7 linked regions of the Homo sapiens genome follow. The protein of the gene in region 5 purifies or fractionates together with the protein of the main gene of each other region. This does not show direct contact. Each region holds a gene or a part of one and is shown on either strand. Other genes may lie near its edges.

Region 1 (3,688 bases), on a different chromosome or scaffold from region 5:
GGCAGCGTCCAGGCTGCAGCCTGGGCCAGTGGACAGGAGGTCGGAGCTGCTTCTAAGCGCAAAAGGAAACCAGGAAGACAGGCTGGGGACCCAGGACGAGGGACAGCCAAGCCCTGGGGAAGCTGGGGGCAGGCAAGCGTGTTGCCCCGTTGGAGGGTGATGTGATGCCCAGTGGAAAGAAGGGATTCGGGGCCCAGCAAGGTTTGGGGTGAGGGGTCACTCACAGAAGCAGAGGAACAGCGTGTCCACACACATGCCATAGACGCTGAAGAAACCGTGTGCAATCAAGTAGGAGCCAACGATCACCGTCTGGGCAAGGAGAAACGAGCTGTCCCTGCTCCGTGTCCTTCCCAGAGCAGCCCCCACCCCCTGAGTCCATCCTATGCTGGGACCACATCCTTCCCCTGCTGAGAAACCCTCTTTGGATTAGTGACATCCCAACCCCTCACCCCCGCTGGCAGGGCCCCACCATCCACACAAAATCCTCTTTCTCTCTCTCCGTCTTTTTTTTTTTTTTTTGAGACGGAATCTCACTCTGTTGCCCAGACTGGAGTGCCATGGTACGATCTTGGCTCACTACAACCTCTGCCTTCCAGGTTCAAGCAATTCTGCCTCAGCCTCCGGAGGAGCTGGGACTACAGGCACGTGCCACCACGCCTGGCTCATTTTTGTATTTTTAGTAGAGACGGGGTTTCACCATGTTGGCCAGGCTGGTCTCAAACGCCTGACTTCAGGTGATCCACCTGCCTCGCAGCCTCCCAAAGTGCTGGGATTACAGGCGTGAGCCACCGCACACCCGGCCTTTTTTTTTTTTCTTTTTTTGAGACAGGGTCTCACGGTCTCACTCTGTAGCCCAGGCTGGATTGTAGTGGTGCAATCTCAGCTCACTGCAACCTCTGCCTCCTGGGCTCAAGTGATCCTCCCGCCTCAGCCTCCGGAGTAGTTGGGATTACAGATGTGCACCACTGTGCCCGGCTAACCTTTGTATTTTTTGTAGAGATGGGTTTTTGCCACGTTACCCATTACCCATCCTGGGCTTAAGAGATTCGCCCACCTTGGCCTCCCCAAGTGCTGGGACTACAGGTATGAGCCACTGCACTCAGCCTCACCCTTGCTTTCTTTAACCCCTGGGCCTCTGCATGTGCTATTGTCCTGACTTAAATCTAATTTATGCCCCATCGACCTTCTGCTTTCAGCTCAAAGAGCAAGTCCTCAAGTCCCACCTCCTCCAGGAAACCACCTACGACACCTAGAGTGGGCGTTTTTTTTTTGTTTTTTTTTTGAGACAGGGTCTCACTGTGTTGCTCAGGCTAGAGTGCAGTGGCCCCATCTCAGCTCACTGCAGCCTTGACCTCCCAGGCTCAAGTGATCCTTCCACCTCAGGCTTACAAGGAGCTGGGACTACAGGCATGTTCCAGCATACCCAGCTAATTTTTGTATTTTTTTGTGGAGATGGGGTTTTGCCATGTTGCCCAGGCTGTTTTCAAACTCCTGAGCTCAAGCGATCTGCCTGCCTCGGCCTCCCAAAGTGCTGGGATTATACATGTGGGCCCCTGCGTCTGGCTGAGAGCCTTTTTTTTTTCCCTCCTGAGACGGAATCTTGCTCTGTCACCCAGGCTGGAGTGCAGTGGTGGGACCTTGGCTCAGTGCAACCTCCACCTCCCGGGTTCAAGCGATTCTCTTACCTCAGCCTCCTGAGTAGCTGGGACTACAGGTGCGTACCAGCACACCTGACTAATTTTTTTGTATTTTTAGTAGAGATGGGGTTTCACCATGTTAGCCAGGATGGTCTCAATCTCCTGACGTTCATGATCCGCCTGCCTTGGCTTCCCAAAGTGCTGGGATTACAGGTGTGGGCCACCATGCCCGGCCTCTAGAGCCTATTTTATGTCCTCCTAGCACTGGGCACCCCTCCTGAGCTCTTGGTGCAGCTGCAATTTTATGCATGTTTAGGGCTTTCAGGTTTAATGCTCACATCCTCACTAGACCCAGTCCCATTTACTGCTGCATCCCTAGCAATCTGGAGACTCACACGGCCTTGGTAGCTGCTAGATAAACATTTGTTGACTGAAGTCAGTGGACCTGGCTGGGCGTGGTGGCTCATGCCTGTAGTCCTTGCACTTTGGCAGGCTGAGGCAGGAGGATCCCTTGAGTCCAGAGTTCAAGACCAGCCTGGCAATATAGGGAGACACTGCCTCTATTATTATTGTTATTATAGTAGAGCCTGAGCCACAACACCTGGCCTATCTCTATTATATTAAATTAAAAATTCAAAACAATGAAATGGCCAGGCACAGGGGCTCATGCCTTTATTGGCAGCACTTTGGAAGGCCGAGGTGGGTGGATCACCTGAGGTCAGGAGTTCGAGACCAGCCTGACCAACAGGGTGAAACCCCGTCTCTACTAAAAATACAAAAATTAGCCGGGCACAGTGGCATATGCCTGTAATCCCAGCTAGTCAGGGAGCTGAGACAGGAGAATCGCTTGAACCCGGGAGGTGGAGGTTGTGGTGAGCAGAGATCACTCCATCGCACTCCAGCGTGGGTGACAGAGCAAGGCTCTATCGCAGAAAAAAAAAAAAAAAAAAAAAAGTCAGTGGACCTTAGAGGATTAAATAATTTGCCCAAGATTACTCTTACTCATCTTAGAACTACTAAATAGAGGAACTAAAATAAGAAACTAGGTCAATGGGCTTCAAGACCTACACTGAGATACAATACTGCCCTTGCAATGAAGGCTCAATCCCTCCACAGCCTTGTTAACCTCCTTGGCCGTATCTCCACTTTTTTTTTTTTGAGAGAGAGTCTCACTCTGTCACCCAGGCTCGAGTGCAGTGGCGCGATCTCGGCTCACTGAAACCTCTGCCTCCCAGGTTCAAGCAGTTCTCCTGCCTCAGCCTCCCGAGTAGCTGGGATTACAGGTGCCCACAACCACGCCCCGCTAATTTTTGTATTTTTTTTGTAGAGACTGGGTTTCGCCATGCTGGCAAGGCTAGTCTCAAACCCCTGACCTCAGGTGATCCACCTGCCTCAGCCTCCCAAAGTGCTGGGATTACAGGTGTGAGCCACGGTGCCTGGCCCTTATCTCCACTTCTTTACTCCTTCCACGTCAGCCCCACTGCTTCCTGGCACACTCCCACCTCAGGGCCACTGTACTGTTCCCTCTGCCTGGATATTGCCTGCAGCTTCAGATCTCAGATCCAACATCACCTGCATGGCACCACCTGGACCCCCCCCACACCTGCCCAGCCCCCACCACAGTTTCAAACAGTTCCCTGTGCTATACAGACATACTCGTGGCATGTCCCAGTTTGCAATCATACATTCACCAATATCATTATGGAGGAGTATCTGTTTACCCCCAAACTCTAAGGCCTTTAGAGGGAAGCCCTCCACCTCGATGCCTGACACACAGTAGGTGCTTGATAATGTTTGTGGTCTGAGGTCGGGCGTGGTGGGTCACACCTGCAATCCCAGTACTCTGCGAGCCCGAGGCGGGCGGATCACTTGAGGTCAGGAGTTTGAGACCAGCCCAGCCAACACGGTGAAACCCCATCTCTATTAAATATACAAAAATTAGCCAGGTGTGGTGGTTCACGCCTGTAATCCCAGCACTGTGGGAAGCTGAGGCGGGTGGATCACCTGAGGTCGGGAGTTCGAGACCAGCCTGACCAACATGGAGAAACCCC
Region 2 (3,647 bases), on a different chromosome or scaffold from region 5:
TTTCAGTCTGTGTGGCTGCCTCCAGCCACGTGCATGCACATGCTAATGCGTGCACACACACAGGGCATCTGAGTTACTGTATGTGTTATCTTGGTTCATCCTTCAAAACAAAGAATCCCCCTGCCTAACCCTGCAGGACAGAACAGTGTGTGCCAGGATGCTACAGGCACATGTTTGATAAGATGCACAGATAAAAGGCTCAGAATCTGAACACTGCAGGGCAATACTTTCTTTGTTGCCCTGAATACGTCTTCTAGGCTGGGACACCTTTATTATTCTTTCAGTTTACTCACTAACCCTCCCCTCTGGGAGCCCGACAGTCTCCTAGAGAGGTAGTGATGGATTCTTCCAGCCTGAGGAAGAGACAGGGGTTCTGTTAACGCCTGCGGCCGCTGCTGCTCTCATTCCCTTCATAGTTTGTGTTTCTATCCAGTGCAACCAAATCCTTCCCGTGTTTCTGGCTGGATATACCCAGCTTTTCAGAAGCTGCTCTCATTCTGGCAGGGAGGGCAAGGGGTGGGGAAGGGCAGGGTAGGCTGTCTTTTCTCCAAAAGCCTGCTGCTTGCCTTCTTGGCTGAGAATGCCTAAGGCTAAAGACACGGAAATGAAATGCATGCTTCCTTCCCCTTGGCCCCGGCCCACTCAGAGGTTCCCTAAAGAACGATAAAGGTCTGCGTTTGCTGACCTGCATTGAGCTTGGGCAGTGAGCAGGGAAAGGTTGGGAGGAATTTTGGGTTTGGCTTCAGATAAAATCAAGTGCTGGAAACGCAGGGTGGGTGACTTTATCTTATTTCCTTTCTCTGACATTCTACCTGGGCCTGGCTCTTTGCAAGAAATACAGAATGGCCAGAGTATACTTTAAGATTGTCAGCTGCACGGAAAATACTGCATAGATAATTTTTCTGTGTGTATTTGGGAACAAAATAGAAAATGAAAGAAGAAAGAAAGAGATGGCCTTTGTAATGACCCATTCCAACAAGTACATTTTAAAGAGTCGTCTGAGGTTCAGAGAAGGAACAGGTCATAGACAGCCAAGATGTTCCTTTCTACATATCAGGGCACCAAGGCCAGACAGAATCCTTCCCATCAGCACAGCCGAGTGCTGGGTGTCCTGTCCCAAAGCACTCTCCAACACTGTGACATCAGCACACTGCTGAGTTGCTGGATTAATTTGTTAAGCCTCAAGTTGTCTTTGTTTTTTCTTGTTTTTGACTAAAATTTGTACTAAACATACTAAAACTTTAGTACTATCTGCCACAGAAGCTTGGTACTCTCTGACCATGCATTATTCATTCTAACCTACTTTTTCTTTTTAAGATAAAAATAAAAAAGTGGAAATAGTTGGAAAAAAACATGCCACCTTCTTGCTGACATTTTGTTTAACTCTCTTGGCCAAGCTGATTCCTCCTTCCTCCATACTCCCAAGGCACCTGAGGTCTGGCTCTTCAGGCTGTGTGACGGTAATTTGTATGTCATCCATGTTTGGGTCACCACAAGAGAATTATTTCACCCTCCTTTCCTCTCCAGTAACTGTCCATGTGCATAGATTTTTTTCCCACAATTAATCGTATGATATTTGTATTCTATTTTTCTCATTATATGCTAAGAATTTTTAAATTGTTTTTTACATAGTTTTCAGTCTTAAAAATTTTAATGGCTGCAAAATAGTTGTTATAAGTTATTTGACTTCTATAAATATTTCAGCCATTTTAAGTTGTCTGATATTACTGAAACACTACCATGAATGTTTTTTTGCACATACTTTCTTCTTCATCGAAATTATCGGCATAGGACAAGTTACCAGGGGAGGTATCACTGCAGTGTTACGGGCTGAACTGTGTCCCGCACAAATTCGTATGTCGAAGCCCTTACCCTCAGTACCTCACAATGTGACTTTATTTACAGACAGGGACTTTAAAGAGGCAATGAAGGTAAAATGAGGTCATCAGGATGGACTCCGATATAACCGGTGTCCTTACAAGAAGAGAAGACAGGACACGCACACAAAGCAAGGGTCAGCCATGTGAGGACAGTGAGAAGGCGGCCGTCGACACGCCAAGGAGAGAGGCCTGGGAAGAAACCAACCTTACACCTTGACATCAGACTTCTGGTCTCCAAAACTGTAGGAAAATAAATTTCTCTTGTTTAAGTCACTTAGTCTGTGGTACTTTGTTAGGGTAATATGAGCAAATTAATACATCAGGCAAAGTATCTGAAACATTTTTTTGGTTCTAAATATGAATGTAAGCACAACCACATAATGATGTCAACTGTGCCAGCTTACAGCGGTGACATCAGCATGGGAATGCATCAGTGTCACATCACGAACTTCTCAGCTTTAGGTGTTAATATTTTGATAGGAAAAAATCACTTGCTAATTTAGGAGATATGTAATGGTACCTCAAGGTTGCTTTCATTTGAATTTATTTGCAAGAATGAATTTTTCCATAAATTTCCTATCATTTTTATTTTTTGTTGTGGGAAGAATCAATCATTCACTCATTTAGGAGAGTTATAACAGCTTCCCACTCTTTCACATGTGAAGGATTCTCTGTATAACTGAAATCTTAACCCTGATTTTTGTTATCATGAACATTCTAACCTATTGTTTACAGTTCTGTTTCGGTTGTTTTTTGTTGTATAGAAGTTTTACACTTTCATATTGTCAGGAAAGGATCTACTCCTTTATGACTTGTTTTATTGCTTTAAAACTCAGAACTTACAATTCCTCAAAGGAACTGATATGTTATTTTTATATTTTCTGACTTTTAACAACATTTGACTTTTAAATTGATCAGAAATTGACTTTGGTATATGGTCTGTGGAAAATCACACAGCCCTGCCAGTGGGTTGACTGGTGCTTAAGGGGCATGAGAAAGAAAATATATTCTGTCATTTTTGGATGCGGTTTGGATGTGAGAAATAAATATGAGACAAGTCCAGAGAATTAGTTGACTTAATTCCCCTGATCAAATAACTTTGAATTACAGTGAGAGATAGTCTGGTGCTATGAAAAGAAGACAGGCTTTTGGGTTAGAGACAAATTTCCAATCCTGGTTCTGTCACTAAACAACTGTGTGACCTTGTTCAGGACGATCTCTCTGAGCTCCAGTTTCCACATCAGAAATACACACTGTCTGTAAGGGTTGGGAATAATACAAGCTTTTAAGTGCCCAGCACAATGCCAAGTGCAGAGTCCAGGTTCAGTAAATAGCTGATGTTAATACAGGCAAACAAATCATGAGAAAAGGATTTTCTAGAAAGGGAAGGGCTTATATATATCAGAAGATGAGTAAAATGCTTGCTATCTCTGTCAGAGATTGTTTTTTGTGTGTCAGCAATTAATTTTTGAGAATAAATGATACTTTACAGATCTTGGGAAAGAAATCTATTAAAGCACAAAGCACTGCTGTCTTCCAAGCCATTAAAATGTTATCTGCTTAATTCCTCTTCCAACAATAGGTAATGAACCTTCTCTGATTTAAAATCTTTGATTTTATGGATCTATATCAAGCTAAGAGTAATTACAATAATGAGGAAAGCTGAAATTCCAGAAGCATAATGCATGCAGCCCTCATTTCATTTGCTTTCAAGATTATTTAATACTATTTCACTGTTTACTTTAGGGAAACATATTTGTCTTGTTC
Region 3 (3,688 bases), on a different chromosome or scaffold from region 5:
GACCATCCTGGGCAACACAGTGAAACCCCATCTCTATTAAAAATACAAAAATTAGCCAGGCGTGGTGGCACACGCCTATAGTCCCAGCTACTCGGGAGGCCGAGGCAGGATAATCACTTGAACCCGGGAGGCGGAGATTGCAGTGAGCCGAGATCGCGCCACTGCACTCCAGCCTGGCAACAGAGCAAGACTCCCTCTTAAAAAAAAAAAAAAATTCTCACTTTGCAGCCAGACCTCCCCACAGTGGATCCTATCTCATCCTCATTGACCTCTGCTCCAGCCCCTATGCTGTCCGCAGTTTCTTGCCTCCCGATTGTCCCTGCACTGACCACTGTGTGCTCAGCGTGAAGGCTGCATAGAAGTGTGTACGGCTTGAGGTTTCAGCATCCAGGCTGCAGACCCCACGCAGTGTCTCATACAGTGGAATGTGGCAGATGAGACGGGCTTTCAGGAAGGAAGTCCACTTCTTCTGCAGGATCTTCTTCCCTCCCAGGTCTCCCTGGGGAGGTAGAGGCACGGGATAAGGGGCCAGGGTCAGAGGTCCAGCCTCTATACCCGTGCCCCAACGTCAGCCCAATCCACCTTGCAGACACGAGCCACACGGGCCACACGGTGACTGCTGCGGCTCTGAGTGAAGCTGCCAGAGCCCTCCTCAGTGGCACGCTCCGTGAAGAAGTAGTACACCTTGTCATCATCACCCACTGCACTGGCCTTGCTCTCCCGCACGAGGACGGAGAACACAAACTCCGCATCTGTGGGTCAGGCAGTTTGAGAGGCTTTTGAGACAGGCTGGGGATTCCTTTCCCTCACTCTGAGGCTGACCCCTCACTTGACAACACACAGGAATGGAATGGACAGGCTCACCTGGGGATTTGGGGGTGGGGTGGTCAGCTGGCCAAGGGAGTAAAAATGAAGAAATAGTCCCCTACCCCCCATCATCCTGTGCCTCATCCTCCTAACCATTGAGCCAATGCATTGGTGTCTCCTCAGTTCTCAGGGAGTGTGGGTGGCGGCTCCGGCGGATGTCAGGAATGCTCCGGAATTCATACCTAGTGGCTGTGTAGAGGCCTCCATCTGGCGTGGGGATATTCCAGGCATGAGAGACATGTCATATTCAACAGGGCACATGACATATACATGGTGGCAGGTCCTAGAGATGAGATCCACATCCTAAAAATACCATGTCTGTGATAGGGAAGAAGGCCTGCTCACCAATGATGAGGCCTGTGAAGCCACGGGCTGGGTCATAAGGACACTTCTCCTTCCCCTCCTCGAAGCTGGTTGGCAAGGTGAAGGCCTCAGCATCCTAGGGAACAAGGAACCAGCAGTAAGTGGTTCCGAAGACAGGCAGGGACAGTGGCTCAAAGTCAGATCAGTCTGGGGTCAGGGATCAGCGATCAGGGATAGGGGCAGGTTGTATGGCAGATGCACCTGACAGCAATAACTTAAGCATCCCCTGAGAATGACCTTATGGCCTCAAAACAATGTATGTTTGGAGTTCCAAATCTGCAAGTGGCCAACCTAGAGATTCACTCCTTATCTATGAAGAACATCTGAGCCCCTAGCCCATCCTGTGGAACACATGCTGTCCAGGGGATCAAGGCCCTTTGTTTTGGGTTAAATGAAGTTTGCCAGGTGGAGGTGATTAGGGGGAGGATGCTAAGTGAAAATGCTATAAAAACTGCATGGTTTTTACAAAGGGGAATGGTTCTCCAGTGCAGCCCGCCGCCACTGGAGTGCCCTGTATGGAAGTCCCCTTAATAAACCATCCGTCTCCTTCACTGGCTCTGAGTCTCTTCTTTGGCATCTTGAACATGATCCCATCCCTAATGAAGTCAACAGAGATCTGGCACAACACAGGTATACTCACAATGGCTGCACAGAGGGGCTGGAAGGCGTGAGTCCCACATGCATAGAGGTGGGTAGAATTGAGCCGCTGCAGGAACCGCACATGGTTAAAGCACTCCGTCTGTGGGATGAGGTGGAGAGGGCTGTGAGCCCCCTGCCTGACTAGAAGCCTCCTCCATTAGTCTAGCTTTGTAGTTTGGCTCTTGCCCCCACCCACAGGACAAACGGTTCTTTCCAAGATACCTGTGATCCTTCTCACTGCTCCAGAATATTTCCTGGAACTCACTGTCCTTGGCCTCCCAGTAACATGACCCTATTTCTCTCCTCTGTCCCTCAGATTACCTGACACCATTCTGCCAATATCTCCTGTGTCTCTTGCAGTTCCCTCCACCTCTGGTTCAAGAGCTCCCAGGGATTCCACCATCCTGAGGTGCTTCTCCTCTCCCATCCAGCTCCTTCTCAGCACCTCTTTCTATTCTTGGAACTCCTGCCCTCCTCGCTGGGGTGATACAACCAAATCTATCCCTAGATGCCAGCTTGCTCTCCACCCGATATCCCAGGGATGTTTCAAACTCACCTTGTCAGAAGCCAAGTTCATCCCCTCCTCCATAACCTACATCTTTCCTAAACCTGTTTATCCAGTCTTTCCCACCTCACTTCATCCAACCTACGACTCAACCTAGAAGCCAGGGATCATCCTTGCTGCTTCCTACTTCCTCACCCCCACATTCAGTCCCTCTCCACAATTAATTCATTGTCCTAAAAGTCTCTTGACTTGGTCCACTTTGACTCCACCACCAGCACCCAGTCCAAATGACCACCATGACCTCTTCCTTAGACATCTGCAGTTGCTACCTGATAGCTCCTCCCAACCTTCTCTTTTATAAAAACGACTTTATAAAGCTATTTATTCAGTCAATGAATACATGTACATAGTATAAAACTTAGAAAGTACAAAGGGGTATGTTATAAACAGGGAGTCTCCCATTTATCCCTGTCTCCCAGGTTGCCTGCCAAGAAGACTGCTGTTACTATTGTCTGAAGTTTCCTTCCAGAGATATTTTACCAAACAACACACTTTTGCTACTCTCCAACCACTTTCCAAGGGATATTCTAAAAATGTAAACCTAGCCAGGTGTGGTGGCTCACACCTGTAATCCCAGCACTTTGGGAGGCTGAGGTGGGAGGATCACTGGAGCCCAGGAGTCCAAGACCAGCCTGGACAATATAGCAAGACCTCATCTCTATGTGGTGGCATGCACCTGTAGTCCTAGCTACTTGGGAGGCTTAGGCAAGAGAATTGTTTGAGCCCAGGAGGTCGAGGCTGCAGTGAACCACTGCACTCCAGCCTGGGCAACAGAGTGAGACCATGTCTGAAAAAAAGTCAAGTGGATCACACCACTGTATCGGCTCATCAGTGACCTGAATATAGAGTCCCACATGCTCCTAGCCCTGTGTGATGGGACTCTGCCCATTCCTCTGGTCTCACTCACCCTACTCCAGCCACACTGGTCTTCTCTGCCTGTCAAATGCCCTCAGCTGCCAGCCTCTTGACTCCTTTGCCACGTTAATGATTCCTCCTCTTGCCTGTTACCCAGGGTTTAAATCCATACAGGCCTCTTTGTGTCTCCTCCTGCTCCCTCACCTGGTACAAGCCACTACCATCTGTCCCCCGTCTCCATAAGCCTGCTCAGGCCCCTTCCTCTGACCCAAATGATGCCCCCAGCCTCCTCACTGCTTTTCCTGCCTCCAGACTCACCCTATTTTCATCCATCCAGTGCCTGGGGCCAGATAAATATTCCTAAAGTGATGTTTCCCCAAGATGTTTATTTATTTTTTT
Region 4 (3,688 bases), on a different chromosome or scaffold from region 5:
GATGCCCAGGTATGTGCAGGGCTCAGGGCAGGGGGTCACTGAGGGCCAGATGCGGGCAGGCACCAGGAAGCAATACGTTCCTGCAGCAGGAGTCCTGTGCTGGGGAGACCTGGCCACCACCCAGGACCTGCTCCTGCTTAGCACTGTAACCATGGACAGGTCACCCCTCCAGCCCCGCAAAACCCCACTGTCTCCTCATCAGTTACATGCCGGGGTGAGTAAGGTCAAAAGAGGTGCTTAGCTCGGAGGCCTTTGTAGCTCTGATGGCCCGGAATCCTGTAGATTTGAGATCAGTGAGGACATCCATGGAAAATTATATAGGATCTGAGACCATTTTGGAAGTGAGATATCAGACCTGGACTCACCCCTCTGGCTAGGTTCAAGCCCCACAAGTTCCATGCAAGATGGGATATTTCCTTAGCCCCCAAAGGCGAGGAATTAGCATGCTGTCCCAGAGTGCAGGGTGCCTCTTGGGGAGCACCCAGAACTGGTCCCTGACCGCAGGGCGTCTGGAGCACGTTCACTGATGGAGGTCAGTGCTGCAGAGATGGGATGTCTGCCCTGCTCGGGCTCACCGCGTGAGGGGGACAGGAGAGCTGGCCCTGGTGCCATTAGAGCAGATGCCGTAGAACAAGAGGGTAGATGGGGCTCAGGGTAAATTAGGTTTTTCTTGAGTCCCCCAACATTCAGTAACTTTTCCTTGTTGCAGTTTTCTTGATAGAAAGTGGGGGTCCAGACTCAGGGCACTCACTAGCAAGGAGGACACAGATGCAGCTTTAGCAGCCTGATTTTTCGGGCCCTGACCCTCAGCCAGGGCCACGCTGCTCCCGGATCTGCTTCAGGAACAGGTTCCCGCTGCTGCCACAGACCATCCACGTGATTTTACAGAAGGGGAAGATGTGGCTGGGGAAACATTATCTGGGGTCAAACTGTCAACCAGTGGCACACCTGTGCCTGTGCTTAAGACCAGGGAGTCTTTTTTTTTTTTTTTTGAGATGGAGTCACGCTGTCACCCAGGCTGGAGTGCAGTGGCGCGATCTTGGCTCACTGCAACCTCTGCCTCCCGGGTGCAAGAGATTCTCCTGCCTCAGCCTCCCAAGTAGCTGTGATTACAGGCGTGTACCACCATGCCTGGCTAATTTTTGTATTTTTAGTAAAGATGGAGTTTCACTATGTTGGCCAGTCTGGTCTCAAACTCCTGACCTCAAGTGATCCACCCACCTCAGCCTCCCAGAGTGCTGGGATGACAGGCGTGAGTCACCGTGCCCGGCCCCAGGGAGTCGTGACTGTGGCTCCCAGATGCACTGTTGAACCCGTTCAGACAGCTCTCAGCCCGTCTCAGTGACTATTCAGACTGATGGCTGTGTCATCACAGCCAGGATTCCTGTTTTTGGAGTTGATGCTTTTTCTTTGGAACTGGGAATAAAAGGGTAGTGGGTGCCCCAGCTCCACCTACCCGCCCCTTGTCAGCCCTCTAGTGATGAGGACATTCTTCTCTCTCCCATCACTTTCCCCCTCAGATCTTCCTTTCCAAATGAGCCAGATGTGAGTTCCTTTAACAGTTCCCTGAAGCCCTAGAGTTGGGAGCCATTCATGTCCCCAGGCTGCCAATGTATATGGCCCCCACATCAATACAGCAGGAAGTGCCAGGACTGCCTCAGCCCAGCAGCTGTCTCCGATTACAGGTCTCCTGCTCAGGAGCCAGGGGCTGCTCCCTACAATGCTGTCATTAGCGGACCCTCCCTGCAGAGCTCTGGGTGGGGGGCCCGGGGAGCCAGGAAAGACTGGAGCTTTGGGTGTAGATCCAGGCCACATGGAGCCACGTGGGAGCATGGGGAAGACTTCCCGGAAAGGGATTTTAGAGCTGGAGGGATTGGTCCTCCGAGTATGCCCTCTTTTGTTCCTTTCCTCCTCCACCTCTGTCTTTCCCAGCTCTTCCCCACCACTCTGTCCCATCTGCCCCACTCACGCTGCCTCCCTGGCTCACAGGCCGACAACCCCTCATTCCCCAACCCACGCCGGAGGCTGCGCCTGCAGGACCTGGCTGACCGAGTGGTGGATGCCTCTGAAGATGAGCACGAGCTCAACCAGCTGCTCAACGAGGCCCTGCTTGAGCGAGAGTCCGCCCAAGTGTAAGCGCCACCCGGAAGCGTCCAGGCCCACCACTCCTCCCGGGCCCTGACAAGGGATTCAGGAAACTGAGCATCCCAAATACGGCCCCCCTGCTAGGCCAAGGCAGATGTGGCATTTGGGATTCATGGGGCTTGTTCCCACTGCAGAGTAAAGAAGAGAAACACCTTCCTCTTGTCCATGCGGTTCATGGACCCCGAGATGGAAACCCGCTACTCGGTGGAGAAGGAGAAGCAGAGTGGGGCTGCCTTCAGCTGCTCCTGCGTCGTCCTGCTCTGCACGGCCCTGGTCGAGATACTCATCGACCCCTGGTGAGGGAGGGGCCGGGGAGGGCCACGAGTTTCCTCGGCTGCGGTGGTGCCGGGCGGGGGGCGGGGGCAGGTGTCTCAGCGGGAGCCTGACATTGGGGAGCAAGCCAGTCTCTGCTCCCTGACCCCCACTGGGACGGCCCCCACAGGCCCCAGGAGTGCTAGACGGCACCCTGGGCATCCTTCCTTTTCCCTGCCCCGCGTTTTGGAGCAGTCCTAGCGTCAGAATGGGGATCTGGCCAGGATCAAGAGAGCTGAGGGACAGAGGCCTCCAGAAGGCTGGAGACCTTGGCTAGATGGGCCCACACTGATTCTTGGGACAAAGATGGGGACACTGCGTCAGTCTCAGTCACCAAGGCTGACCTGGCCCCTCTCTTGGCTCATCTTGGTAAAGATAGATTTTAGGCTGTGGGCACAGACTGACGCCCTCTCTAACGCAGCAGTAGGTCCTCCAGGGCAAGGTGTGGCCTCCTGGAGTCCCCAGCTGGTGAAGCCCTGTCTGAGGGTGACGACCACTCTCTTGTTCTCCCTTTCTCCCCTCGGCCAATCGGGGATTCCCCGTCACAGAGGAGGGGTCTGGAACCCTGCTGGGATTACAGTTTGTCAGGAGCCTTGGGCTGGGTCACACTATCTAAGGTTGCGGGTGTGTGACCACGTGCAGGCCACTGCAGGCTCCGGCAGCATCTGTTTCCTCATCTGTGAAATGAGGAGAACAACCCCTGCCCTAGCGGACACTCACGACTGTGGTGAGGCTCAAATTCACTCATTCCATAAGTATTGATTGGTTGTCTGCTTCATGCGTGGGGATCAAGGGCTGGGGCTATGGCAGCGATGCGGCACACAGAAACCCCTGCTCTCGTGAAACTTGGGTTCTGGTAGGGGAAGCTACAGGCAAAAGCAATTAAACAATTAAAATATGCATCCATGCGAGAGTAAGTACTGCAGACACAGGGAAGGCAAGGAAGGGAGGCGGGTATGCTGCTGGGGAGCTTTGTTTTGTTTTGTTTGCATTTTGATGTGGGATGGTCAGAGCAGGACTTGCTGGCAGGATAATATTTCAGTAACGCCTGGAAGCGGGTGAGGGGCGAGCCTTCTCCTATCTGGGGGACACCTGCTTCGGATAGAGGTGCTGAGGCTGGAGTGGCCTGGCCCCTGGAGGCACAGTGAGGAGGCATCGCATTGGGAACGGGCCACAGGAAGAGTAGCAGGAGTCCAGCACAGACGTGGGGCCTCCTACACGCCACTGCAGG
Region 5 (4,445 bases):
TGGTTTTCAGGCACAAGACGGTAGCCCGGCCTCCAGCAACCCTAAACAGCTGGGCTGCTGCCCTCTTCCTCCTCCTCAGCCCAGAGGGTCTCCCAGGACCCTGAGGGCCATCCACAGAAGAAGTGGGCCAGGTTGCGGGTCAGGCCTCGGTCGAAGGGGTTGCTGGGGCGCTGGCGGAGATAGGCGATGCGGTGTGAGGAGATGAATTCCCAGGTGGTGGTGTTGCTGGCCACCAGGTAGAGGTGCGAGACGAGGAGCAGGCTGGCCACCAACGAGAAGAGGGACAGCAGCAGGAAGGTGGCGAACAGGAGCCCGCTGGACCGCAACCACTGACCCCAGGGCTGGAAGAACCGGAGGCCTGACCTGCGGTGCAGGGGACAGGGGCCTGGTGCTGGGGGAGGGCAGGGGAGCCCTTCCCTCCCCATGCCGGGTCCCTGGGAGTCCTGGCTCTGTCCACCCCTGTGGGAGCATTCATCCCACCCTCCCTCTACACCCGGGCAGCAGCACCCACCATGCCAGGTACAGGCCCCACAGAAGCACCACCAGCTGCAGCGCCAGGTAGACCACAAAGAGTGGGTGGTTGCGCTCTCCCACACAGTTCTCCATCCAGGGGCAGTGGTGGTCGTAGCGGCGGACGCAACGGCGGCACTCACGGCAGTGCCGAGCCCTCAGGGGCTGCTGTGGGCATGGAGGAGAGTGGAGGCTCAGTGCCAGCCCTGCTGTGGGCCCACCACTGAGGGAAGGAATCAGGGCCTGATTCTGGAAGGCCTTCTTGGAGGAGGGGCGAGGCCCAGGCAGTGGGGCAGGAGGAGGTCGAGGAGTCTCAGCTTTGGCCCAACCTCTCCCACGGGTGTCCGTGCATCACTCACCAGCACCAGGCAGTATCTGCAGCGCCGAAGAGGGATGGCTGGAGGAACCATGGCTGTCTGCTCCTCTTTGAGCTCCTCCTGGAATGAGGGGTGGGGTGTAAGACAGGGTCCCCTTGGGAGACAGATGGCATTGGCGGGCAGCTCCCCTAGGGGCCGGCTTAGCTCTGGGTATGGAGTTTGGGACCCATCCCATGCAGAATGGAGGTGTGGGGTATGGCGGAGCACCCTGGACTGAGGGCGGCTGTGTATGTTTGCAAGTCTCTTCCTTCTCTGGGGCCCAGCAGTTTCCTCACTACTGTAGATGGGGCTCTAGGGGTGGCAAGAGGAGTCACTGAACTGCTCCCACAAGAGCCTGCAGCACAGAGCCTGGCATGGAGACTGGTGCTGGTTGTTAGGTCCCTGTTGGTGAGAGTAGGGGCCCCTGGTTACCTGAGGCTGGGGCTGCACATTCACGTAGCCAGGGTCCATGAGTGACACAGCGAGGTAGAGCAGCAGGGAGCCCAGCACCAGGAGCAGGAAGGTGAGGGGCAGGAGCAGCTCCCCCTGCTCCTCCCATTGCCGCAGCTCTGGAGAGGCCGGAGAGCACAGTGAGGCTGGGCCGGGTAGAACAGGAGTGGGTGGGGTTGGGGTGCAGTTGGAGGTGGGGAAGTGTGTTCCTGGCTGAGCAAAGGCCTGGAGATGTTGGTTCCATGAGTGGCTGTGTGTGGCCAGCAGTTCATCTGCACTTTTATCTGGAGGGTCAGAGGGAACCATGGAAGGTTATAGAGCCAGATCTGTTTTGGAAAACCTCATTGCTAAAGAAATGGATCAGGGGAAGCCTGGGGGCAGAGAATCTGGCCAGGAGGAAGAAGAGAGTCGCTACAAAGGCCTGGCAGGAAGTGAGGGAGGAAGGAATGGACAGGGGGCTGCTGGGTCAAGGGAGCCAGACCTGACTGGATGTGGGAGAGAGGGAAGAGGGGTCCAGCGTCTCTGGCTCTGCAATGGTGAGAGACTGGTTAGGTCTGAAATGCCTGAGAGAGATACAGTGGGAAGGGTGCAGCTGGCAGGCTCAGATGCTGCAGAGGGGCATACGGAAGGGTCCAGCAGGCTTCAGCCCAGGGAGGTGACAGGATTTTGGGGAGGTAGGGTGCAGGGCAAGGAGTGAGGGGGCATGAGACCACCAGACAGCAGAGTGTAGACAAATCCTGTGTCCCTTGGTTGTAAGGGGGAGCAGAGAAGAAAGGGTGGGTTTTGAGGGGGGTTTTCTGATACGGAGACCTGAGCAAGTTTTTAGGCTAAAGGGTGAAGGTGGTGGAGGAGGTCTGTCTTGGGAGGAAAGCCAGAAGGGGCCCCAGTCCAGAAACTGAGGCTGGACCGCCATGGAAGGAGGGCTGGGGTCTGCTGTGGGGGACAGTGGGGGAGGCTGCCTGTGGCAGGTGAGGCGCTGGGTAGGGGGCTACTAAGAGGAATGAGGGAAATGGAGGTGGGTGGGTGGGTGAATCTGTGGGAAGATGGGAGACAGGCCGCACCCCATGGAGTGTTCTCTGGCCTGAGGGTTTGCCTGGACTTGGGCAGCTAGTGGCCATGGGGGTGTGGGGGGTGTGGGTGTGGGCAGAATGCCAATCTTTGCATCTAGTTGAGCCTCCTAATCGTATGGATAGGAAGATTTGGGGTCAGTTCCTGGGAAGGATCATGTGGGTCCCAGGATCAGGGGACATGGGGCTCAAGTCGGTCCTTGGATCTGGTGGGCACCGGCTGGGTCCTGGGATGGACAGGGCATTTGGCAATGATCAGGAAGATGCTGGGATTAATTAGGGATCAACGGGGTATCAGACAGAGAGCAGGTGGCTCTTGGAATGATAGATGGGGAGAGGGCTTCAGGAGCTGGTGGAGATCGGGCCAATCCCAGGATCTCCAGGGATTAGGCGGGAGACCCAGTGTGACCAGAACGTCTGGGGAAGTACGCGGGATCGGGTGGGTCCGGGGTCGCTCGGGGTCCGGCTCACCGGTATCGTGCAGGAAGAGCACCAGCGTGATTCCCCAGGTCAGCACGGTGTGCCCGGTCCGCACCAGGACCCCAGGGCTGAGGAGCGCCCAGGGCGCCATCGCCTCGGCCCGGGGCCCCACCCGGAAGAAGCGCCCAGAGGGGCGGGCCCTCCGAGGGAGGGGAACGCCGCCGCCCGGGGACTGGTGGATCTAGGCGTTGGGCGGGGCCGGACTGGGTCAGGGAGGCTGCCTATTGGATGGCATCTGCGGCCGAATGGACCCTCAAGCCAACAGGTGCCTGAAGAGGCTGAGGGTGGGGCCGGCGCGCGCGCAGCTGGTAACTCCCTCAACTCCAGCCCCACCCGCCAGGTAACTTTTGAAAGCGCCGGAGCGCGCGCGCACCTCCCCCGCGCTCCGCTGTGCCCTCCCCCGCGTTCCCCTGTGCCCGCCCTCGCAGCCTCGCGCATGCGCGTAGCTCCCTGGGCGCTTCGAAGATCCAGCGGCTTGCTGTGAGTCCGGGAGGCAAAATTGTACCCATTTCAAAGATGTGATGACTAAAGTCTCGAGAGGGCCAAGGCTCGCCCAAGGTTGCTCTGTGGTGACAGCTTTACCTCCTTGCTATGTATTCTCAGATATTGCAAACGGACGAGAGAAAAGTGGAGGTACGTGGTGCACATTCTGACTATGGGTGATCCAACTTAGGCGGGAGTCAGAAATCCCAGCACTGCCCCTTCCTACCTGTGTGACCCTGGGCGAGTTACTGAGCCCCTCTGAGCTGTTTTCTGTCTCTATAAGGGGGATTACAATAGTGTCTTCCTCCTAAGGTGTTTGGGAGGATTAAATAATGGAAGCGCCTTGTCTAGCACGGGACTGTCTTGCCTCTCCTGCTGTGAGCCACCACCTACAGGCGGACTTTCCTCACCGGAGGCTGCAGGCTGTCCTCCTTCCCTGTGTCCCCAGGGCCTTCTCCACTCAGCCCCGCCTTTCCACAGCACCTCCCACTGATACCAGCATCCTCCTCCGCCTCCCTCTGATTGGCCCCATCCCAGCTCCTCCAGGATACTCCTCTGACATCTGTTGTTTTTCTCAGCTCAACATCCTTTTTTTGGTTGGGGAATCGACTTCCCATCCCATGTGATTGGAGGGACTGCCCCTCACCCCATAGGATGGCGAGCGGCAGGCTGTGGGCTTTCGACTCTGCAGAACCAATCACAGGCCTTCCATGAGATTACTGTCTAGATGCTGAGAGGAAGGAGCATTCTTTTGGATCTCAAGCCTAAGGAATGGGATATAAGGCAACTGGGAGCCGTCTTTACGCTGGGCGGAGAGGGCTTACCCTGTCTGTGGCTGGAGAAAATGAGACCAACTTATAAAGACACATAGAGATGGATAAGCAGCACTAAAGGAGGGAGCAAGAGATGGTCTGAACAACATTGTCTGAGCCCTCTAGATCCGGCTGTCCCTGAAGCTGATACTGACTCTGCATCCCCTGGTTGCAAGAGTCAATGAATGCCCACCTTTTTTTTTTTTTTTTTTTTGAGACAGAGCCTCACTCTGTTGCCTAGGCTGGAGTGCAGTGGCGCGATCTGGGCTCACTGCAACCTCCACCTC
Region 6 (4,337 bases), on a different chromosome or scaffold from region 5:
TCAATTAAAACCATGTAATGTCAAAACCAGTGAAATTACTATTTAATTTCATGGCCAATTGGACCAGATAAATCTGACTTGCTACTTGATATCATCATCCCTTTGGGTTGTAATGGACAGGAATGAAGACACTCTTGTTATATGCAAAAAAAATATTAAGTATTTGCAGACAACATACATTTAAAATCATTTTAAAACTCTATGGCTGTAACAGGACCTTTTCAATCTCTAGAAAAATTAAATCGTGTACACACAAAGTTTAATAGTCCGTTAAAAAGTGTGAAAAATTGAAGCTTGTAAGGAAACAGTCCAGAACTACCAACCCAAATAAAAATGGCACTTTCCTGCTAACATCTACACACTGGTATGTTCGTTTTGGACAGCAACAATGTGCATTGGGGTGGGGGGTGAGGGACAGGAGGAGAAGGGTCATTTACATATTTCTCAATCCAAGTATATGAATTTAGAGGCCTTCCTCAAAAATACATGCACTCCTAAGCCTCCAAAGTCATGCTGCTATATTTAAGCATATAAAAACAGTCAGAACATATCAGGCATGTTAAAAGACAAGAAACAAACCTTTTTTCTTTTGACATGTGTGTGTCTTCCTCCAGAAAGAACGTCACGCTGTACCGAGTCTGGACATTCACTTTCTTGGCTCCCCAACAGCTGCACCTTACAAGAAAGTAAGGTGTGACACTCAGAAATGGCCACAATGGACTCAGATGGGGTCTTTGAGTCACGACAGCCTTTCTCATTTTCCCCTGATGTTTGAAAAGGAGCCTTAAAATTTAAAGGGTTGTAGGGGTCATCAGAATTACAGAATGAGTTCCACAGTTTGAGACTCTCTGCTTCATCTGCACTAGATTCCCAGTCATCTTCCTCCCCAGAACTATGCTCAGGGGTCTCAGGAAGGCTTCCAGACTGGGAGGAATTCTCTAGATCAGACTTGCCAGACAAATCCTTCTCTGAATCAGAAGGCTCTTCAGGAACAATTCTGGCAGCAGTCTGAATTGTTGCTGTAAAGTTCTGGGGATTATAAGGATCTACACTGCAGAAAGAGTTCCAAAGGTGAAGCCCTTCAGGGTCTTGTTCAAGGTCTGAGTCTGACAGTGAGCTATCACTATCAAAACCATCATCCTCAGCTTCCTCATCCCAATCCTCACCTTCTGGATCAGAACTTGTTTCCAGGTCACTGGATGCACCTCCCAAAATATAATCTATCAGTTTGTTACTACAAGCTGGTCTGGCAGAAATGGGAAGGTCACCTTCTAGGTATGAGTAATCAACTACACTTATTCGGCCCTCTCCAGGCTCCTTTTCCATAGGTATCTCACTAGATGGACAGCCCTCAGAAGGGCTCTCTTCTTCCAAAGCAAGTGGAACCTCTGTAGTTAATAATTCTATTTTTTCTTCAGTGGATTCCTGGGTGTTTCCAGGAATGTCTCCAGCAGCAGGAACAAACTGTGTTGGGTTATCTCTGCAGTGTTTTGGATCCATCCGGAGAAGGCTGTGTTCCTCCTCCAGGCTGTGGTAGCCATTATCCTGGTCAGGGGTGGGTAAATCTTGCCCCTTGCTAGCCTGTTGAAGGAATTCCAGCCGTTTCATGCGAAGATGGTGAATTTCTGGTAGGCCTTCCGTAGAAAGAGGTGGACATCCCTGCCACGAGGCCGGAATGAGTTCTGCACTCAGCGGCTGGGGATGACAATGGTCCTCTCTCAGGCAGCTGCTCTCTGGGGTTAGTGTCTGGAAGCCGACTACCTCGCTATTTCCATCACTGTTCTGATAGCTGACTTCTAGCCTAGGAAAGCAGTCCAGGTAGGAAGGGTTCAGCAAATAGGATACCACACTGAAATTGTCTATGCGTTGAATGTTTAGAGGCCCAGAGGGCGAAGAGCCAAGTTCCCGGTTAGAGTACAGACGGGATTGAAGGCTACTGGGCAACAGCTCCACTCCCCACAGCTGCTGCTCTAAGAGAAAAGCCTGTGCTGCAGGGTCCAAAGCACTTCCCTTGGCCTTAAGCTCCAATTTTAGGTCTGGGGGCGAGTATTGCCAGTGGATCCCCTCCTCTAGCCAATCAAGGGGACTGGTGACCGAGGGGTCTGAGGAGTCGAGCTGCAGCGAACTCAAAGATTTCTGCGCTGTGGGGGCGGCTGGTTTCTCCCGTCCCTTCAGGGCTCTCAGGGCGCTGTAGACTCCAGCAAAATCTAGCCATCTGGTCGGAAACATTCCACCGAAAAGTTGGCTCCAAATTAGCACCTTCTGAAGCAATCCGGGGAGCGGCGCAAGGAGCTGGGAGAGCAGTTTCGTCCAGTAACTGACCCGAGTCTCGGGCTGGGCAGAGGAAAGCAGTGTGGGGTTCCCGGAGTTTTCCGGGCCAAGAGGCGTCGGGAACTTAGAAGAGCCTGCTTGCGATCGCCGAGGGAAAAAGGGTGGCCAGAACCGGAAGCCCGCCCGAGGGCCAAGCCGTTTCCGCGATCCGCCTGTCCCCGGCTCCATCTCCTTTTTCTTGACAGTCTCTCAGGTAGGGCCGCGGCGCTCAGCGGCTGGAGGTCGACGGGATTCGGAGGAAGCCTACAGAGTCTCGGCCTTGCCCAGCGGTGGCGTCGCTGCTCCAGGCCGATCTTCGAGCCAGCAGAAAAGCCACAGAGGGCAGCGAATGCGGCAGCGGGCGGCAGAACACAGGGAAGAACAGCCCGCGCAATAGGCGGCGACTGATGCGACTTCCATCCTGGCGGGGAAGGAGGTTCCCTAGTCGGCTCGACGCTTCAACACCATGGATAGGAGTCCCCCCACGGCCTCGGCGATGGTTTTCCGACTGACAGAGGGTTGAAAAGCCCCTGAGCAACGCGATACCGGAAGGACTGGGTAGGCCGGCTGGTGCGGTGGAAGCGAAGCCCAAAATGGCCGCAGGGCCCGCGCGCCGGCAGGACACCCCCCTAGACGCCGGAAGAGACGCAGGACTGTTGGGCGTCTACGTCCCTAGCGCCGCGCCGCCCAACGTCACTCGCAAAATCCCCGGGGGGCGGGCCTTTCCGCCCACTTCCGTGTGGCCGCCGATTGGTTTTGCCAGATTTCCCTGTCGGCTTCCTTACTCGAGGTAGAGCCGCACGGCAGCGTGAGGTTGCATCAGCCGGGGCGGGGGGGGGGGGGGGGGGGGGGGGGGGAATGCACGCATGCGCAGTCGTTTCTGTGTGGTCTCCTAGGAGACCGCCCCAACAGCCCTCTAGGTTAAAGGTCTTGGGGAGGGGAGGGGTTTTCAAAATAACCCGAGAATTTCCCGGAGGCGTTTTGATGGCCTAATACACACTGACGTGTGTACAGTCATCCCCTCTCATGAAATGGGGATTAGTTCCAGGACCCCGTAGACACCAGAATCCGCAGACGGTCAAGTCCCTTATGTAAAATGGTATAGTGTTTGCATATAACCTGCATACACCTTCCCAGATATTTAAACCATCCCCTAGATTAAGTATAATACCTAATACAATGCAAGTGCTATGGAACTAGTTGTTATACTGTATTTATTTGTATTATGTTTTATTATCTTTATTTTTCCCGAATATTTTCAATCCATGGAAGGTTGAATGCCCCGCGGGCCAACTGTAGGGTTATCGTAGTCTTAGATTTTTATTATTTATTTATTTGAGACAGGGTCTAGCTCTGTCGCCCAGGCTGGAGTGCAGTAGTGCGATCTCGGCTCACTGCAGCCTCAACCTCCTGGGCTCCAGTGAGCCTCCCACCTCAGCCTCCCGAGGAGCTGGGACTACAGGCTCGCACCACCACGCCCAGCTAAATTTTTTTTTTTTTTGAGACGGATTCCCACTCTGTCGCCAGGCTGGAGTGCAGTGGCGCAATCTCGGCTCACTGCAACCTCCGCCTCCCGGGTTCAAGCGATTCTCCTGCCCCAGCCTCCCTAGTAGCTGGTACTACAGGCGTGTGCCACCACGCCCAGTTAATTTTTTGTATTTTTAGTAGAGACAGGGTTTCACCATGTTGGCTAGGATGGTCTCGATCTCCTGACCTTGTGATCCGCCCGCCTCAGCCTCCCAAAGTGCTGGGATTACAGGCGTGAGCCACCGTGCTCGGCCAATTTTTGCATATTTTTATAGAGACAGGGTTTCGTCGTGTTGCCCAGGTTGGTTTCAAACTCAGCTCAAGTGATCTGCCCGCCTCGGCCTCCTAAAGTGCTGGGGTTACAGGCGTGAGCCACTGCGCCCAGCCTGACAGATATTTCAGGGTTCTCCTATTGTTCAGTACTATGTAGACCATCAACCTGAGATCTTATGTAAAAGTTGGGCAGTGCTGCGTACATACATGTCTGGTGTGGGGCAAAC
Region 7 (4,137 bases), on a different chromosome or scaffold from region 5:
GGTAAATCTCTGTTGGAGGCTCTCAGCTCTGAAGGCTGTGAGACGCCTGATTTCCCACTCCACACCTCTATATTTCTGTGTGTATCTTTAATTCCTCTAGCACCGCTGGGTTAGGGTCTCCAGGACCGAGCTGGTCTCGGCACTGGGGGAGCTGCCCTGATAGGTAGTGAGCTCCCTGTCCCTGGGGCTATCAAGCAGAGCCAGGTGCCGCCCCAGGGAGCTCCTTCTTTGAGGGCGGTCCAGAACCCTGGAACCCCAGCCCAGGCCCAGGCCTGAATCCGGAGCTTGTTTAACCCAGCAATTCCGGGACCCCATCCCCGGTCGCTGGCATCCGCTGTCATTCGAGAGCCTGGGGCTGACGGGGAGAGCTGGTCCGGCCTTCTCTGGGCCGCCTTTCCTCCCCAGCCTCGTCAGGAAGGGGCACAGGACAGCCGAGCTGTGCGACAGCCCGCTGGGCCTGCGCCCCAGGGCCTCCGGCGACACTTGGAGTCCGCAGCTGAGTCACTGACTCTCACCCGGGCTCCCCCGCTTCCGCCCGGCCGTGATTTGCTCCGGTTTCAAAAGGGAGGAAGGGCGGGAATGCTCGGGAAGAGCCTGGGGTTGGCAGGACCTTTAGGGGGTGGAATGAATGTCGTGAGGGCGAGTAAGGAGGTACCGGCTGGGGCTGAAAATGCGCACGGGGACCATGAGCGTGATTCGCCCTGAGCCGCTGCGAACGCCCTGCGAGCTGGGGTGGCCCTGGAGGTCCTGGAGCAGAAGCTAGGTTCCCGCAGAGTCCGCTGCAGCGCCGCTGGCGATCGGGCTGGGTCCCATTTTCCACGAAAAGTCCCGCGGCTTCGGCCGCGGAGGTGCTGGAGCCTTTGCGCTCAGACGAAGGGCCGAACGGCCAGGGCCAGGCCGCGTCTTCAGAGCCTGGCGAGGGTCTCGCGCTGCTGGGAAGGCGGAGACGCCGGGGCGCGCGTGCACCCTCGCGCCTGCAGCGCCGCGCACGGCCGCCAGGTGCCGCTGTGGCGCTCAGCGCGCCGCCCGCCCCGCCCCAGGGAACGCGAAAGTGGCGCGGGCCTGGACGGCGGGACGGACCACGTAGGGCGCTGAGAAGGTCGCGCCACGGTGGGCGGGGCTCCGGGCCCCTCCCCCTCGGCCGCCCTCGCGCTGTGGTTCGCTCCGGGCGCGCTGCGCTCGTGAGTTCCCAGGAGGCCTGGCGGGCACCGTAACCAGCGCCGCGGACACCGGCACCGGCGCCACGGACTCCGCAGGACCCCGCGCCCGCCGCCGCCGCTATGCTGGGGCTGCTGGTGGCGTTGCTGGCCCTGGGGCTCGCTGTCTTTGCGCTGCTGGACGTCTGGTACCTGGTGCGCCTTCCGTGCGCCGTGCTGCGCGCGCGCCTGCTGCAGCCGCGCGTCCGTGACCTGCTAGCTGAGCAGCGCTTCCCGGGCCGCGTGCTGCCCTCGGACTTGGACCTGCTGCTGCACATGAACAACGCGCGCTACCTGCGCGAGGCCGACTTTGCGCGCGTCGCGCACCTGACCCGCTGCGGGGTGCTCGGGGCGCTGAGGGAGTTGCGGGCGCACACGGTGCTGGCGGCCTCGTGCGCGCGCCACCGCCGCTCGCTGCGCCTGCTGGAGCCCTTCGAGGTGCGCACCCGCCTGCTGGGCTGGGACGACCGCGCGTTCTACCTGGAGGCGCGCTTTGTCAGCCTGCGGGACGGCTTCGTGTGCGCGCTGCTGCGCTTCCGGCAGCACCTGCTGGGCACCTCACCCGAGCGCGTCGTGCAGCACCTGTGCCAGCGCAGGGTGAGCGGCCCCCGCCCCTGGCCCCGGAGCACGGCCTTTGTGGGACCTCCGGGGGCTCCTCCTAGTCCCTGGCCCCCTCCCCTAGGGAAGGCCCGCTGCCTGCACCTCTTTCGGATACTGCTGGAGTCCTGCCTCTTACCGCTCCCGCCCCTCCCTCTCTACCGGGGGCATTCCTCACTGATGCCTTTGTTCGTGGGGGTTCCTAGGGTCCCCGAATCAACTCTTCATAGTCGGGCTTAGCGTGCTTCCCTCCTGCCATTTCTTAACCTGGCCCCTCACGGTTTCGTGTTCACCCCTCTCCTCTCTCCTGGTACTCTGTTCTGTGGCTGGAGTGTTGACCTCTCTGGTCCTTGGTCCTGAATATAGGTTGGAGAGGTGATCAGTTAGAAGAGGTTCCTAGGAGTTCCCGAGGACCTGAGCCCCCCTTTCACACAGCTTAGAGCTGAAGGGCTGGGTTCTGGTCACCTGGGTTTGGGGTTGAGGTATTGAGCCGAGTAGCTGAAAGCCTTCTGGCCTTTCTGCAGTTGGAGAGAGGAGGGCCATGCACCTCCCAGGGCTCGCTCCTCCCAGCAGGGCAGAACCGCCCCTGCAGCATGGCACCTGGGGCCCTGGGGACGGCCACCAGGCCGATGTGGCCAGACCAGTTGCCAGAAAAGTTGCCTGGAGCGTCCGTGCAGGAAGCCAGGGCCTGTGCACCCCTGGTGTGCCCTTAGGGCACTGCCCTCTCCGGTCTCGGACAGGTGCCTCCCGAGCAGACGAGGGTCAACGTCTCATCTCAGTCCTGATGTTACAGGAAAGGGATTCAGATCCAGACCTCAAGGGAGGGTTCTTGGATCTTGTGTAAGAAAGAACTCAGGGCGAGTCTGCAGCGCACAGTGAAAGCAAGTTTATTAAGGTAAAGCGGTGAAAGAATAGCTGGTCCGTAGACCCAGTAGCATGTTCCTGTAAGAGGAGGAACGCGTCCACCCTAGGTGCAATGCTTGTATATATGGGGAGATGTGATCTGCTACAAGGGTTTGTGATAAAGGAGTAATTTTCTTAATTACTATATTTTGCAAGAATCAATATTACTATTTTCTTTTTTTTTTTTTTTTTTTTCAGACGGATTCTCACTCTGTCGCCCAGGCTGGAGTGCAGTGGCGTGATCTCGGCTCACTGCAACCTCCGCCTTCCGGGTTCACGCCATTCTCCTGCTTCAGCCTCCCCACTAGCTGGGACTACGGCGCCAGCCACCACGCCCGGCTAATTTTTTGTATTTTTAGTAGAGACGGGGTTTCAAAATCAGGAATGCCTTTGTTCTCCAGACATCGGGATATCTGGACACTCCCAAGTCTGGGTCTCTTTAGTAAACATTATTAATTTGTTCCCTTAACTGTGTTTGAAACGCTTGTTCCCCGGTGCCGTAAAGAAATAGCACGTGAACATAAATTTAATTTCCTCAGCAAGGCCATTTTTACTTCCTGCAGAAAGGGTACACTCGCCAGCAGCTTTGCCATGAGAGTACACCGAACAAAGGAGACAGGCTCATTTATAACCTGATGTGTAACAATCGCTTTTATTTAAAGTGCGAACGGAATATTTAATCCATTTCAGCCAGGGATTTGCATCTTGATACTCTCTCGATGGCTAAGGTCTGTTTTAGATCTCTTATTTTTACAATAGACACCCTAGTTTTATTATTAGATGTAGAAGCAACCGGTGTGAGATCTAGAACTGAGGCTACTGAAGAAGGGGGAGATGGGGGAATAATGCGTATTTAAAAAATACCTAGGGGGTCTTTTCCATTTATGTCAATCCCCATACCACAGAAGCGACTGAGGGCAGGTCTAGAGTTAGTTAAGGTGGAGGTGGTGATAGAGAAGGACAGGGTTACACTGATAAGGCTGACAGTTCGAAAGGGTAGTCCTTTCAGTGAAATAGATGAGGGGTTTTAGATCTGCACAGACCTTTTTCTTGGAAGTTTAACTTTGCTCCTGAGCAGTTGAATGTGTATAGTCCCGTTTACTACAAAGTTGGCAGGCTATAGGAGCAGAACATTGGCATCTTGGCTGCAGGTCATTACGATAATGAGAGCTAGGGGTAACCATGTCCATCAGAGGGCTGGGACGTAAGCATTTGTGTGAAAAGGCTAGCTGTTGTTGATCTTTTACATTTCCGCAAGGTATGACAGAACAAGCATTCAAGGCGGTGGTCTGAGGTGAGTTAGTTACAGTAATAACAAAGGCGCTAGTAACAATAAGGAAAGGAAGCAATATGAAGGTACAGGAAAATTAAGCTTTCTTTAACTTTAACTTAGTAGGATTGGTCCTAGTACAGTCATCCATGATTCTGAGAGAAAGATGTT

Evidence for each region.
Region 1: the proteins of ZDHHC12 (region 5) and SLC44A2 purify together in Homo sapiens (affinity purification with mass spectrometry; one large-scale study listed by BioGRID and IntAct). This does not show direct contact.
Region 2: the proteins of ZDHHC12 (region 5) and NBAS purify together in Homo sapiens (affinity purification with mass spectrometry; one large-scale study listed by BioGRID and IntAct). This does not show direct contact.
Region 3: the proteins of ZDHHC12 (region 5) and SEMA4G purify together in Homo sapiens (affinity purification with mass spectrometry; one large-scale study listed by BioGRID and IntAct). This does not show direct contact.
Region 4: the proteins of ZDHHC12 (region 5) and ADCY3 purify together in Homo sapiens (affinity purification with mass spectrometry; one large-scale study listed by BioGRID and IntAct). This does not show direct contact.
Region 6: the proteins of ZDHHC12 (region 5) and PPP1R15B purify together in Homo sapiens (affinity purification with mass spectrometry; one large-scale study listed by BioGRID and IntAct). This does not show direct contact.
Region 7: the proteins of ZDHHC12 (region 5) and THEM6 purify together in Homo sapiens (affinity purification with mass spectrometry; one large-scale study listed by BioGRID and IntAct). This does not show direct contact.

The regions. Positions count from the first base shown.
Region 1 is NC_000019.10:10,638,988-10,642,675, reverse strand, and holds part of SLC44A2 (choline transporter-like protein 2), read right to left. Parts: intron 310-3,688; coding exon 225-309; intron 1-224.
Region 2 is NC_000002.12:15,169,820-15,173,466, forward strand, and holds part of NBAS (NBAS subunit of NRZ tethering complex), read right to left. Parts: intron 1-3,647. UniProt on the Homo sapiens protein: Involved in Golgi-to-endoplasmic reticulum (ER) retrograde transport; the function is proposed to depend on its association in the NRZ complex which is believed to play a role in SNARE assembly at the ER. Required for normal embryonic development.
Region 3 is NC_000010.11:100,975,913-100,979,600, reverse strand, and holds part of SEMA4G (semaphorin-4G isoform 1 precursor), read right to left. Parts: intron 1,970-3,688; coding exon 1,871-1,969; intron 1,782-1,870; exon of another isoform or gene 1,307-1,781; coding exon 1,213-1,306; exon of another isoform or gene 1,075-1,212; coding exon 961-1,074; exon of another isoform or gene 784-960; coding exon of another isoform or gene 753-783; coding exon 583-752; exon of another isoform or gene 500-582; coding exon 330-499; coding exon of another isoform or gene 229-329; intron 1-228. Other genes in the region: MRPL43 (large ribosomal subunit protein mL43), read left to right, coding at 590-783. UniProt on the Homo sapiens protein: Cell surface receptor for PLXNB2. May play a role in axon guidance.
Region 4 is NC_000002.12:24,833,238-24,836,925, reverse strand, and holds part of ADCY3 (adenylate cyclase type 3), read left to right. Parts: coding exon 1-9; intron 10-1,932; coding exon of another isoform or gene 1,933-1,989; coding exon 1,990-2,132; intron 2,133-2,279; coding exon 2,280-2,441; intron 2,442-2,459; exon of another isoform or gene 2,460-3,184; intron 3,185-3,688.
Region 5 is NC_000009.12:128,721,140-128,725,584, forward strand, and holds the start of ZDHHC12 (palmitoyltransferase ZDHHC12), read right to left. Parts: upstream 2,989-4,445; 5' UTR 2,955-2,988; coding exon 2,855-2,954; intron 1,601-2,854; coding exon of another isoform or gene 1,436-1,600; coding exon 1,299-1,435; intron 948-1,298; coding exon 870-947; intron 679-869; coding exon 512-678; intron 392-511; coding exon of another isoform or gene 364-391; coding exon 42-363; 3' UTR 1-41. UniProt on the Homo sapiens protein: Palmitoyltransferase that catalyzes the addition of palmitate onto various protein substrates. Has a palmitoyltransferase activity toward gephyrin/GPHN, regulating its clustering at synapses and its function in gamma-aminobutyric acid receptor clustering.
Region 6 is NC_000001.11:204,408,913-204,413,249, forward strand, and holds the start of PPP1R15B (protein phosphatase 1 regulatory subunit 15B), read right to left. Parts: upstream 2,906-4,337; 5' UTR 2,500-2,905; coding exon 580-2,499; intron 1-579. UniProt on the Homo sapiens protein: Maintains low levels of EIF2S1 phosphorylation in unstressed cells by promoting its dephosphorylation by PP1.
Region 7 is NC_000008.11:142,726,067-142,730,203, forward strand, and holds the start of THEM6 (protein THEM6), read left to right. Parts: upstream 1-1,156; 5' UTR 1,157-1,280; coding exon 1,281-1,793; intron 1,794-2,894; exon of another isoform or gene 2,895-3,424; intron 3,425-4,137.